Regions from separate parts of the Homo sapiens genome. Here region 2 is linked to region 1. Evidence: fine-mapped expression QTL. A gene starts in region 1. The other region holds a variant in brackets. All regions are shown on one strand. Distances are from middle to middle. Region 1 holds the start of ABHD8 (abhydrolase domain containing 8). Region 2 has its middle 8.0 kb from the start of GTPBP3.

Region 1 (3,011 bases):
TGGGTTCAAGCGATTCTCTTGCCTCAGCCTCCTGAGTAGCTGGGATTATAGGCAGGTGCCACCATGTCTAGCTAATTTTTGTATTTTTTGTAGAGATGGGGTTTCACCATGTTGGCCAGGCTGGTCTTGAACTCCTGACCTCAAATTTTCCTCCTGCTTCGGCCTCCCAAAGTGCTGGGATTATAGGTGTGAGCCACCGTGCACTGACATGTTTTGTCTGAGCAGTGCCTTTGTGGTAGTTACCCTCCTGGGTCACCCTAGTCTATCCTCAGAGAGAAAGACTTGGCTATGGCTTACCCCACAGGGTGTCCACAGGGAAGGTGGTGGCGTCTTGTGTGGGGATGTTCCTGGAGAAGGGGACATTGTGGCAAATGTGGACCAGCCGGAAGACACCCCCTCCCCCCAGCTGGAGTTTATACCATTTATGGCCTCCTAACTCATTCATTCAGGTATACACTAACTCATCCATTCAGGTATACACTAACTCATTCATTCAGGTATACACTAACTCACTAACTCATCCAGGTATGCACTCACTAACTCACATATCCCCAGGGCCTCCTAAGGCATCTAAAATATGCAAATCTTTGGTGAGCCCCCAGTGAGGCTCCTGGCTCTGAATTTGACTCCTGAAAGGTGAGGCCCTAGGAGAGGGGGATGGGGACTGAGCCACAGAAAGCCTTGCTCAGCTCCCCTAGACCGGGGTGAGCCGGGGTCTGTTTCATAGAGGGCCAAGCTGAGGCCCAGACACTCTGAGAGGAAGCTAGACTCTGAACTTCCTCCTTGGCACCCTGGATTCTGGGGATCTGCTATACAAGTCCCCAGAGGTGGCGAAGAGGATGGGAGAGGCAGGGCCCTGGCTGGGGGCCTCCAAGCCTCCATCCCACTCCTTGGGCCACCCCCGCCCCCGTGTCCATGGCAACCACAGGCGGTTACATAACCTAAGGGGGGGATACCCGAGCAGTGCACCCCCATTGTCGAGGTGTCTAGGGCCTGGAGATGGGACCAGCTGCCTGCCTGCCCCCTACCCCAGGTTGGGCGCCGCTAAGGTAACGCACGCCCGAGACTGAGCCGCAGTGGCCCCAGACATACTGGAGGGGAAGCAGGCCATGCCCCCCACCTCGAGTGGGGCCCTAATCCCGGATTGTGGAGGGCAACGCACAGGCGCCACCCCAGCCCCGCTTCCCCGCCCCCGGCCCCCGCCTTCCAGGTGTTCGTCATCCCTGCAGCGGGGTCGAGCCCACTGGGGCTCCGTGGCTTCCTACGAGCCCAAACGCGGGGTTGGTGGACACCACTCCTCCGAAGTGGAGGCCCCGGGGCTTCGATCTCTCCTTTTGGGGCCCGTTCCCCGCTCACCTCATCGAGGGCCGCGGGGCCCGGGTCGGGGCGGAGGGGTCCCAGGCGGAGAAGCCAGCGTCCGCCTGCTGGCGCCGTTTACATGGTGGCGCGGGGTCAGGCCGGGTGCGTCTACGCGGGCGGGCACCTGCCCCTGGCGGTCAGCGCAGGGGCATCCCGCGGCCGCCGAAACAGCCGGCCCTTTAAGTTCCTCCCCCGAGTAGGCGGAGCCACGTGCCGACGGGCGGGCACTTCGGCCTATCGCAGCTGCGGACTGACCTGGCCTAGTTAGGAGCCCAATGAGAGGCGGCAATTCCGTAGTGGAGGCGGGCTCTGGGAGCAACGGCCCCGCCCCTTTTGGGGGTTCACCGAGGTTGGGGGAGGGATGGGGCCTGGCTCAAGGCGGAGAAGGGGGTTGCAGTCTAGGGTCTGCGGGACGCCTGGGAGTGTGCGGCCGGGGCCCTCTCTCTGCAAATGGGTCTCCCAAGCCCTTGCCCCCCAGCCCCTGCCTCCCAATTGCCCTGTTCCTCTCCAAACGAGGCCCCCATACTCTTCTCTCTGTATTGACCTTTCCATTCTAGAAGCAGAGACTCCAAGATCTTTTTCCAATCTCCGGTGGGGAAACTGAGGCTCATAAAGGGCACAAGAGCATAAATCAAGCAAGGAGCAAAGCTGGGACTTGAACCCAAGGCTGTGTGATTCCAAACCCTGGGAACCATTATTTGCTAACCTCCCCCCTACGCCCCCCCCTTTTCTTTTGGTAGGGACGAGGTCTCGCTATCTTGCCCAGACTGGTCTCGAACTCTGGGCATCAAGCAATCCTCTCGTCTACGGCCTCCCAAAGGGCTGAGATCACTGGCGTGAGCCATCGTGACGGGCTTCTCTAAAGCTTTCAAGGAAAGTCTTGGAGCTGTGGGTAATTAGAGAGTTTGAATTTCATAATCAGCCGATTTAACCCATGGCTGCCATGGTTCTGAGAAGGGCTGATAGCAAGAGGCAGGCATCCCAGCTCTGTGGTACCGGCGGGGCCATGGTAGGCCCTCAGGAGAGCTCAGGTCTCAAATCCAGCCTCTGCCCTTTGCTGATGTGTGACCTCGGGCAAGTTACTTCACTTTCCTGAGCCTCCGTTTATTTCTCTATGAAATTAATCCTCTCATAAGTTTGCTACGCAGGTAAAGCACTCATCATAGTGTCGTGCATATAACAAATGCTCCATATATTATGGGCATTATTATAGTGGTGATGTTTTGCTAAACGATGCTACAGGTAGGATGGGCTTCGGAGGACGAGGGGTTAAATGCTCCTTGCTGCTTGGCCACTCACATCCCCTGGAATTTGCTGCCAGAGCTGGATTCCGTCCAGACACCTACTCTTGCCCACTAAGGGCACTTCTGGGAGACTATACAGTTTATTCATTTAGCAAACACCTCTCTGCATGAACCCCAAGCTGGCACTTGTAGGGATACAGCCCCAGGCCCCTGGCCCTTGAGGAGCCCTTGAACTTGGGGGAGAGTCAAGGGAAAGCAGTCGGGCCAGAAGAATGGACAGCGGTTGAGAGAAGACGACTCCTTTTTTTTTTGAGAAAGGATCTCACTCCGTTGCCCAGGCTGCAGTGCATTGGCGCTATCATTGCTCACTACAGCCTGGATCTCCTGGGTTCAGGGAATCCTCCCACC
Region 2 (2,500 bases), 42 kb after region 1:
GTTTGACTCCAAATCTGAGTTTGCTGAGGGCCTCCTGTGCAGCAGGCAGGATGTTGGGGTCACAGAGGGGAGCAACAGGCTTGGTCCCTGTTCACATTAAAGAAGTGACAAGAGGCCAGGCGTGGTGGCTCACGCCTGTAATCCCAACAATTTTGGAAGCCAAGGTGGGCAGATCACTTGAGGCCTGGAGTTTGAGACCAGCCTGGCCAACGTGGTGAAACCCCATCTCTACAAAAAATACAAACATTAGCCAAGCATGGTGGCACACGTCTGTGGTCCCAGTAACTCAGGAGGGTGAGACAAGAGAGTTGCTTGAACCTGGGAGGCAGAGGTTGCAGTGAGCAGAGATCACGCCACTGCACTCCAGCCTGGGCGATAGAGCGAGACTCTGTCTCGAAACAACAACGAAAAGAAGAGACAAGAAAGAGGTCATTACAGTGAGGCCTGATGGCTGCTCTTTTTTTTTTTGAGATAGAGTCTTTGCTCTTTTGCCCAGGGTGGAGTGGCATGATCTCAGCTCACTGGCAACCTCTGCCTCCCAGGTTCAAGCGACTCTCCTGCCTCAGCCTCCCGAGTAGCTGGGACTATAGGCGTGTGCCACCACGCCTGGCTAATTTTTGTATTTTTAGTAGAGACGGGTTTCACCATGTTGGCCAGGCTGGTCTCAAATGCCTGGGATTACAGGCGTGAGCCACCGTGCCCAGCCTTTTTTTTTTTTTTCTTTAAGTAAAGATGGGGGTCTTGCTGTGTTGCCCAGGCTGGTCTCAAACTCTTGGCCTCTGGTGATCCTGAGACCTCAGCCTCCCAAAGTGCTGGGATCACATGTGTGAGCCACCGTGCCTGGCCTGATGGCTTCTTTGAAGCTCATAAAGAGGAGAAGTGACCTAGTCAGGCAACTTAAAGTGGGCTGCCTGGCAGAGGTGATGAGTGTTGAGATCTGAATGGTGAGGATGTCAGATGGAGGAGTCTGGGGAGGGCACCCCAGGCAGAGGGCACTGAATATGCAAATCCCTTCATATGCATATCCCACTGACACATATTTCACTGGATTACATATCCCACTGATTCAGGAACTTCGCGGTGTGTTC[A/G]AGGAATAGTGAGATGGTCAGGTTTTTTTGTTGGTTTGTTTGCTTTTTTTTTTTTTTTTTTTTTGAGACAGGGTCTTGCTCTGTCGCCCAGGCTGGAGTGCGGTGGCGTGATTGTGGCTCACTGCAACCTCCGCCTTCCAGGTTCAAGCAATTCTCCTGCCTCAGCCTCCCAAGTAGCTGGGATTACAGGCATGTGCCACCACGCCCGACCTTTTTTTTTTTTTTTTTTTTTTTTGACAAGGCCTCTCCCTTTCACCCAGGCTGGACTGCAGTGGCTCGATCATGGCTCACTGTAGCTTCCATCTTCTGGGCTCAAGTGATCCTCCCACCTCAGCCTCCTGAATAGCTAGGACTACAGGCATGCGCCACCACGCCCAGCTAATTTTTAAATTTCTTTTAGAGATGGGTTCTCACTATGTTGCCCAAGCTGGTTTTAAGCTTTTGGGCTCAGGCAATCTTCCTGCCTTGGCTTCCCAAGGTGCTGGGATTACAGGTGTGAGCTACTATGCCTGGCCCTTTTTTTGGGGGGGGGTTGGGGTGGGGTCTCACTCTGTCACCCAGGCTGGAATGCAGTGGTACAATCATGGCTCACTGTAATCTTCAACCTCCTGGGCTCAGTTGATCCTTCCACCTCGGCCTCCTGAATAGCTAGGACCACAACCACCATGCCCGGCTAATTTTTAAATTTTTTTCATGGAGACAGGATCTTGCTATGTTGCCCAGGTTGGTCTCAAACTCCTGACCTCAAGTGATCTGTCCGCCTCAGCCTCCCAAAGTGTTGGGATTACAGGCGAGAGCCACCGCGCCCGGCCAGAGGTGGTCAGAGTGGCTGGAGCAGAGGAAAGGAGGAGAAAGAGGAGGGAGACCATTGGAGAAGGGATGGATGGAGGGGTCTGATAGGCAGAGGTTCGTCTGAGATTCTTCGGGGAGCCTGACGTGGCGGGGACCGACCAGCAGAGGGCGCGTCGCGCTAAGTGAGGCGGTCCCCAGCAATCCTCCCATCAGCGCTCCCGGTGCCCCACCCTCAGCGGATCTAGGCCTTCCGCATTCACCTGGTGGCATGTGAATGGTTAACTTCCCCTGACTGGGGTGGAAACTGAGTCTCGAAGAGAATCAGGATCTTTTCTGGAATCAGAAAAAGATCTCCACCTCCAGTGGTTGAATATACAAACTCTGATTTCAGTGGACACAGAGCCTGGGAGGCATCCGCGGCAGAGAGAGGGCACGAAAAGGGCCTAAGGAGGCCCGCAGAGTTTCTGACCACCCAACTGAAGGAGACCTCAGGGCCGGGCGCGGTGGCTCACGCCTGTAATCCCAGCACTTTGGGAGGCCAAGGTGGGTGGATCACCTGAGGTCAGGAGACCAGCCTGGCCAACGTAGTGAAACCCCGTCTCTACTAAAAATACAAAAAT

Evidence for each region. PIP is the estimated chance that this variant, and not a neighbour inherited with it, causes the effect.
Region 2: its variant is the best candidate, but not a certain one, in a credible set for the expression of ABHD8 in lymphoblastoid cells (GTEx, PIP 0.64).

Annotation. Positions count from the first base shown.
Region 1 is chr19:17,301,886-17,304,896 of GRCh38, forward strand. It overlaps ABHD8 (abhydrolase domain containing 8), which reads right to left and starts at 1,540. Exons shown (of 5, transcript NM_024527.5): 1 at 1,357-1,540. It also overlaps a transcript of MRPL34 not described here. RefSeq lists an enhancer at 1-77 and silencers at 435-729, 1,113-1,662.
Region 2 is chr19:17,344,326-17,346,825 of GRCh38, forward strand. No RefSeq gene overlaps it. Among named protein-coding and RNA genes, the nearest start is that of GTPBP3, 8.0 kb to the left of the region's middle. RefSeq lists an enhancer at 1,766-2,500. The variant A/G (reference allele first, on the strand shown) is at 1,089.